Linked DNA regions of Homo sapiens. The protein of the gene in region 1 purifies or fractionates together with the protein of each later gene. This does not show direct contact. Each region holds a gene or a part of one and is shown in the gene's direction. Other genes may lie near its edges.

What was found. The genes of interacting proteins can lie anywhere in the genome.
Region 2: the proteins of PLCD3 (region 1) and PIP4K2B purify together in Homo sapiens (affinity purification with mass spectrometry; one large-scale study listed by BioGRID and IntAct). This does not show direct contact.

The regions. Positions count from the first base shown.
Region 1 is NC_000017.11:45,111,870-45,115,517, reverse strand, and holds part of PLCD3 (1-phosphatidylinositol 4,5-bisphosphate phosphodiesterase delta-3), read left to right. Parts: exon of another isoform or gene 1-9; intron 10-27; coding exon 28-174; intron 175-273; coding exon 274-424; intron 425-1,016; coding exon of another isoform or gene 1,017-1,151; coding exon 1,152-1,268; intron 1,269-1,912; coding exon 1,913-2,079; intron 2,080-2,260; coding exon 2,261-2,396; intron 2,397-2,505; coding exon 2,506-2,655; intron 2,656-2,813; coding exon 2,814-2,902; 3' UTR 2,903-3,648. UniProt on the Homo sapiens protein: Hydrolyzes the phosphatidylinositol 4,5-bisphosphate (PIP2) to generate 2 second messenger molecules diacylglycerol (DAG) and inositol 1,4,5-trisphosphate (IP3).
Region 2 is NC_000017.11:38,765,110-38,768,623, reverse strand, and holds the end of PIP4K2B (phosphatidylinositol 5-phosphate 4-kinase type-2 beta), read left to right. Parts: 3' UTR 1-2,933; downstream 2,934-3,514. UniProt on the Homo sapiens protein: Participates in the biosynthesis of phosphatidylinositol 4,5-bisphosphate. Preferentially utilizes GTP, rather than ATP, for PI(5)P phosphorylation and its activity reflects changes in direct proportion to the physiological GTP concentration.

The DNA.
Region 1 (3,648 bases):
CTTCATCCTCCACGTTGGCCCCCACAGCAGCTGAAGGGCCGGGTCCTGGTGAAGGGAAAGAAGTTGCCCGCTGCTCGGAGCGAGGATGGCCGGGCTCTGTCGGATCGGGAGGAGGAGGAGGAGGATGACGAGGAGGAAGAAGAGGAGGTGGAGGCTGCAGCGCAGAGGCGGCTGGTGAGAGCTGGGATGGGTGGGGTGGGGAAGGGGGGGAAGGTGGGAGGACGGATGTGGGAAGCGGGGGCCAGCTGAACCCCGCTGAGCCTGGTCTCCTAGGCCAAGCAGATCTCCCCGGAGCTGTCGGCCCTGGCTGTGTACTGCCACGCCACCCGCCTGCGGACCCTGCACCCTGCCCCCAACGCCCCACAACCCTGCCAGGTCAGCTCCCTCAGCGAGCGCAAAGCCAAGAAACTCATTCGGGAGGCAGGTAGGAGCTGGGGCACTGGGTGTCTGGGGGCGAGAGGGTGAGAGACCTCCTGAAGGGAGTCTGGAAAGGAGTTGAGGGGGCTTTGGGGGACAGTAAAGAGGTCAAGAGGACCCCAAAGAGGGGCTGGGCTGAGGGAATGAGGGCCCCGCACATGCCAGGGTGGATGGAGGGGAGTGGCACGCTGAGGGCGGCCTGCTGTCTGCCTTCAGAGCCCTGTGGTGGGGCCGGCCATAGAGGGTGATGGGTCAGGCTGGGCTGGGGGCTGGGGGAGCCCAGCAGCTGCTGCAACACTGGGGAGGAATTCCTGGGGCAGGTGATGCTGAGAGGACACATCACCTGGAGGACTAGGAAGCAGCCAGGTGAAGAGGGGAGAGCGCTTTCCAGACAGGAGGAACAGGTTGTTGAAGGCCTGGGGCCTTGGCCTGGAGAAGAATTCCAGGAACCACAGTGGAGCTGGAGGGCCGTGGGCATTCAGTGTACTTGGTTGGAACTTTGTCAGGAGCTGGGAATTGGGGGCTGGGGATGCAGGGCCAGGCTGTGTGGCTGGAGGGGGTCCCTGCAGCCTCCTCAGTGAGCTCCCCTCTCACTCTAGGTCAGAAGAGAGTGAGGAGCGGGGGCAGGGTGACCTGGGGACGGGCTTGGGCTCTGTTCCCTGGAGGTTACAGGCCGGGGCTTTGGGTGAGGGACCCCCGGAGTCTGTCACGGTCTCACCCCAACTCTGCCCCAGGGAACAGCTTTGTCAGGCACAATGCCCGCCAGCTGACCCGCGTGTACCCGCTGGGGCTGCGGATGAACTCAGCCAACTACAGTCCCCAGGAGATGTGGAACTCGGGCTGTCAGCTGGGTAAGTGGGGGCCACAGGAATGAGAGCAGGCGGGGTGCCACAGTGTGGGGGAGGCCTCAGCAGTGAGGGGCCCACACAGCCTTCCAGACGGTGGAAACACGCATTTTGTTGATTATTTTTAAAGTTGCCAGCAATGTAGGTGGGAAAATCAAATCAGGCTCGTTTGTTCTTGACAGTGTACAGGTCTCGCATTTTTATCATGGTAGAAATTAAAATCTCCACTCCCATGTCCCCCGGACACACACAACCCCCACACACCTGGCAGTCCCACTAAGTCAACACTGACAAGGGTGGGCTCTGGGGGACGCTGAGCCCCACCAAAGGAGGGCTGTATCGTCTCCTTGGGGTAAGGATGGAAACCCCAGGCTTCCTCAGACCCCTGGCTCTGACCCAAGCCTGGCCCTGAGGGTGGGGGCTTTTTTAGTACCTCCCACCCCAGTCTTGAGGGATCCCAGGGCAGAAGTACAGGTGACAGTGGGGGCTGGGTCCATGACCCCCTCCCCTAAAGTCATGGTGGGAGCAGAGCAGCACTAAGCAGACAGTGGGACCCCAGGCCCTTTGTAGAGAGGAATGCAGTCCCCTGAAACTGAGTAGTGAGAACAGGGCCGCTAAGAGCCCCTGCTCTGACCCTGCTGTGTCCACAGTGGCCTTGAACTTCCAGACGCCAGGCTACGAGATGGACCTCAATGCCGGGCGCTTCCTAGTCAATGGGCAGTGTGGCTACGTCCTAAAACCTGCCTGCCTGCGGCAACCTGACTCGACCTTTGACCCCGAGTACCCAGGACCTCCCAGAACCACTCTCAGCATCCAGGTCAGCAGGCTGGAACGGGCCCCAGTGTGGGGTCAGACTGGTTCTAGAAAGGCTCTTTGTGAGGTGGAGGAAGGCAAGGGAGGCTGGGGACATTTGGAAGTGAGGGTGGTGTGAGCTTGAGGCCCATGAGGGGATGGCCAAGGTGGGCGTGGGCCCCAGCCACTCCCTCCCTCACCCACAGGTGCTGACTGCACAGCAGCTGCCCAAGCTGAATGCCGAGAAGCCACACTCCATTGTGGACCCCCTGGTGCGCATTGAGATCCATGGGGTGCCCGCAGACTGTGCCCGGCAGGAGACTGACTACGTGCTCAACAATGGTGGGCAGCCACTGGCGGAAGTGGGGTTGGGGGAGACTGCAGAGAGCGAAGGGTGGTGCAGGGTGGGTCCTGGGGCCCCTGGGCTCTGACTGCCATCCCTGTGCCCTAGGCTTCAACCCCCGCTGGGGGCAGACCCTGCAGTTCCAGCTGCGGGCTCCGGAGCTGGCACTGGTCCGGTTTGTGGTGGAAGATTATGACGCCACCTCCCCCAATGACTTTGTGGGCCAGTTTACACTGCCTCTTAGCAGCCTAAAGCAAGGTTGGTGGAGGCTGGTGGGGATGGAGAGGGATGTGGGTCCAGGTCCTGCAGACCCTGTTCACCTTTGTGCCTCGAATTTCCTGCCCTGAAGCAGGCCCGGGCTGGGCCAGACCCCCAGGGTGCACAGAGGACCTGAGGCCTGGCTGTCCTCCCTACAGGGTACCGCCACATACACCTGCTTTCCAAGGACGGGGCCTCACTGTCACCAGCCACGCTCTTCATCCAAATCCGCATCCAGCGCTCCTGAGGGCCCACCTCACTCGCCTTGGGGTTCTGCGAGTGCCAGTCCACATCCCCTGCAGAGCCCTCTCCTCCTCTGGAGTCAGGTGGTGGGAGTACCAGCCCCCCAGCCCACCCACTTGGCCCACTCAGCCCATTCACCAGGCGCTGGTCTCACCTGGGTGCTGAGGGCTGCCTGGGCCCCTCCTGAAGAACAGAAAGGTGTTCATGTGACTTCAGTGAGCTCCAACCCTGGGGCCCTGAGATGGCCCCAGCTCCTCTTGTCCTCAGCCCACCCCTCATTGTGACTTATGAGGAGCAAGCCTGTTGCTGCCAGGAGACTTGGGGAGCAGGACACTTGTGGGCCCTCAGTTCCCCTCTGTCCTCCCGTGGGCCATCCCAGCCTCCTTCCCCCAGAGGAGCGCAGTCACTCCACTTGGCCCCGACCCCGAGCTTAGCCCCTAAGCCCTCCTTTACCCCAGGCCTTCCTGGACTCCTCCCTCCAGCTCCGGAACCTGAGCTCCCCTTCCCTTCTCAAAGCAAGAAGGGAGCGCTGAGGCATGAAGCCCTGGGGAAACTGGCAGTAGGTTTTGGTTTTTATTTTTTGAGACAGGGTCTCGCTCCGTCGCCCAGGCTGGAGTGCAATGTTGCAATCATGGCTCACTGCAGCTTTGAACTCCCAGGCTCAAGCGATCCTCCCATCTCAGCCTCCTGAGTAGCTGGGACTACAGGCACAGGCCACCAAACCTGGCTAATGTTTAAATTTTATGTAGA
Region 2 (3,514 bases), 6.3 Mb from region 1:
TGCTTTTTAGCAGAGACACCTCGTTAAGCTCCGGGATGACCTTGTAGGAGATCTGTCTCCCTGTGCCTGGAGAGTTACAGCCAGCAAGGTGCCCCCATCTTAGAGTGTGGTGTCCAAACGTGAGGTGGCTTCCTAGTTACATGAGGATGTGATCCAGGAAATCCAGTTTGGAGGCTTGATGTGGGTTTTGACCTGGCCTCAGCCTTGGGGCTGTTTTTCCTTGTTGCCCCGCTCTAGACTTTTAGCAGATCTGCAGCCCACAGGCTTTTTTGGAAGGAGTGGCTTCCTGCAGGTGTTCCACCTGCCTTCGGAGCCTGCCACCCAGGCCCTCAGAACTGAGCCACAGGCTGCTCTGGCCAGGAGAGAAACAGCTCTGTTGTTCTGCATTGGGGGAGGTACATTCCTGCATCTTCTCACCCCCTCAACCAGGAACTGGGGATTTGGGATGAGATATGGTCAGACTTGTAGATAACCCCAAAGATGTGAAGATCGCTTGTGAAACCATTTTGAATGAATAGATTGGTTTCCTGTGGCTCCCTCCAAACCTGGCCAAGCCCAGCTTCCGAAGCAGGAACCAGCACTGTCTCTGTGCCTGACTCACAGCATATAGGTCAGGAAAGAATGGAGACGGCATTCTTGGACTTCACTGGGGCTGCTGGATTGGATGGGAAACCTTCTGGAAGAGGCAGATGGGGGTCAAACCACTGCCTTGGCCCCAGGAAGGGGCCATAGGTAGGTCTGAACAACTGCCGCAAGACCACTACATGACTTAGGGAACTTGAAACCAACTGGCTCATGGAGAAAACAAATTTGACTTGGGAAAGGGATTATGTAGGAATAATGTTTGGACTTGATTTCCCCACGTCATAATGAAGAATGGAAGTTTGGATCTGCTCCTCGTCAGGCGCAGCATCTCTGAAGCTTGGAAAGCTGTCTTCCAGCAGCCTCCGTGGCCTCGGGTTCCTACCGGCTTCTCTGCATTTGGTCTGCTGATCATGTTGCCATAATGTGTATGGAAAGTGTAACACATTCTTACTGGTTAAAGACGACTACCAGGTATCTAACTTGTTTAACATTGAGTTTGTGTGTGTGTGTGTATGTTTGTGTGTTTTGTATATTGTTTACATTTTGAGAGGTAGCATTCTGTTTCAAATGCTTTTTGTTTTTCTGACAGTATTGTTGACTGGGTCATAACATTTTGAGCTGTGGTTTGGTGGATTTTCAATTTTTTTTTTTAAAGGTCATTCGCTGTGCTATCTTCAAAACCTTGAGTTTGGCCCCCAATTTTTGGCATTCAAATGTTTAAAAGCTATTTATCTTGGTTTATACAAGTTTCCTTTCTCTTCTTTTTGTCATGGTATTCTATTTGGTCTGCAGTTTGAATGTAGAGAAAGTGGACTGATCCCCCAAGCGTTGTCTGCCCCCACTCTTTCCTCCTTGGGTCCCGCCATTCTTTTACTGGGCAGTCGAGGGCATTGGAGGGGAAGTGACTGCCCTCAGCCTCACTCCCTGGGGCCATGAAGAAAAGCTAAACAGTCTCATGGCATCTCAGAATAATGTTGGGTCTCCCAAGAAGAAAGGTGTAAGAATAACGACATGGCTGATTAGGCGAGGCCAGGATAGGGCTAAGGCCAGGATTCCTGGCTGGCATCCAGTCACCCCTTCTCCCATCCTTCCCCCTCTTCTTCCACAAGTCCGCAGCCGAGACACTGTAGTCTCCCAGCCACAGTGATGAGTGCCCTGGAGACTCCACTGACCTCTAGATGAAGGCCCCTGGCCCTGGTTCCTGTTAATTAACCTCTGGGTCTTTGAGTCCCCCAGCACAAACTTCTTTCCTGTACCCTGCGGCTTGGGGTCACAGGGCATGCCGGGAAGCCACAGCTGAGGGGCGCAGACTGAAGCAGTGCTCCACCTCTCCTTCTTTAGCTCAGGGGTTGCTGGTCTGTGGCAGGCGCCACGAGTGGCCCCTGTGGCTGTTCTCAGTGGCAGTCTCTTAAGTTCCCACCACAGGCAGCTCTTTATCCCCTCTCCCTACTTGACTCTTTCTCTTGCCTGTGCTTTTGGCCTCAAACAGGCCTGCTGGTAGCGCTCAGGGCGTGAGGCTACACTCCTGCCCTGCCTTTCCTGTCTTCATGGTCTGCCAGGGCATACCTTGGGGAGGTGGACCAAAGACCCAGGACTTTTTGCAGTAGCCAGTCCTACCCCCCAGTTGTCTTTTTACCAATTCAGGGTGGGAGAGAAAACTGCAGCACCCCAGCATGTGAGTTACTCAGGTGTTGGGGGCTAGAAGGGACAGTGCGTTTAAACAACACTCAGAGCTCTGGCCTTAAACCTGTGGCCCCCCAAGTCTAGGAGCCTCATCTCTTCCTGGCAGTCATGCGGGCAGGAGGTCCTGAAAGGGAAAACCCATTCAGACAACTGTTCCCCAATCTACCAGCCATCTGCAGGGGTCAGTGACCGTGGCCCTCTCCCTCCTCTAGAATGTGCCACTTATGAAGAGTGCCCCATGGGGAAAAGGAGACTCAGCTGTCCCTTGGCAGCTTGTGCCAGTATCCCAGGGCAGAAGTTTCCACAGGAGCCTCTTGCCCTTGCGCAGAGCCACTGTGAGAGGCGGTGGGAGCCAACACCCTTGGGGGAGGGGGCAGTACTGCTCGGCACATCCCAGCATCAGGTCAGATCATTGAAATTAAAAAATGTGAATTAAGTTCATATCCACCTTTTGGGGAAGCAGGACAAACCACCACCCCACCAAGTGTGTGACTTCTCCATATCCCACTGCAGTTTCCATTTTTTAAATGGGAATTTTCAATCCCCTGTGCTTGTCTAACGTCTGCTTTAAAAAGTTTGAGACCCTGTTACTGTTTGAAAATGCATGCATGTTACGATGAATCTCCAACCTGAGGAAAAAAATAAAACTCAAAAAGCTTTGTGTACATCTGTTATGTGTGAGTCCTTGGGAAATGAACCTTTTTTTTTTCTTCCCAGAATTAAAAAGTTTTGGTCCTAGCTTTAGAGGCAGCTTCGGCTAAATCAATGTATGGCTTGAGTTTGGAGAAAGAATATGGTCAATGACATCCCGCTTTCAGATGCAATTAATAAACAGTGGTTAAAAGCACAGCACCACTGGCTGGGTTTGGTGGCTCACGCCCAGTACTTGGGGAGGCCAAGGCAGGAGGATCACTTGAGCCCAGAAGTTCAGTACCGGTCTGGGTAACATAGTGAGACCCCGTCTCTACAAAACAAGAATTAGCTGGATGTGATGGCACATGTCTGTAGTCCCAGCTACTCAGGAGGCTGAGGCAGGAGGATCACTTGAGCTTGGGAGGTTGAGGCTGCAGTTAGCCATGATTGCACCACAGCACTCCAGCCCTAGCAACAATGAGACTCTTAAGGAAAAAACAAACAAAACACCACAGCACCAGAGCCAATCTGCCTGTTAGCTGTTACTACCATGCACATGGAAGAATGGACAACCCCCCCCCCGCCCCCCCGCCTCCAGCTGTGTAGAACGAAC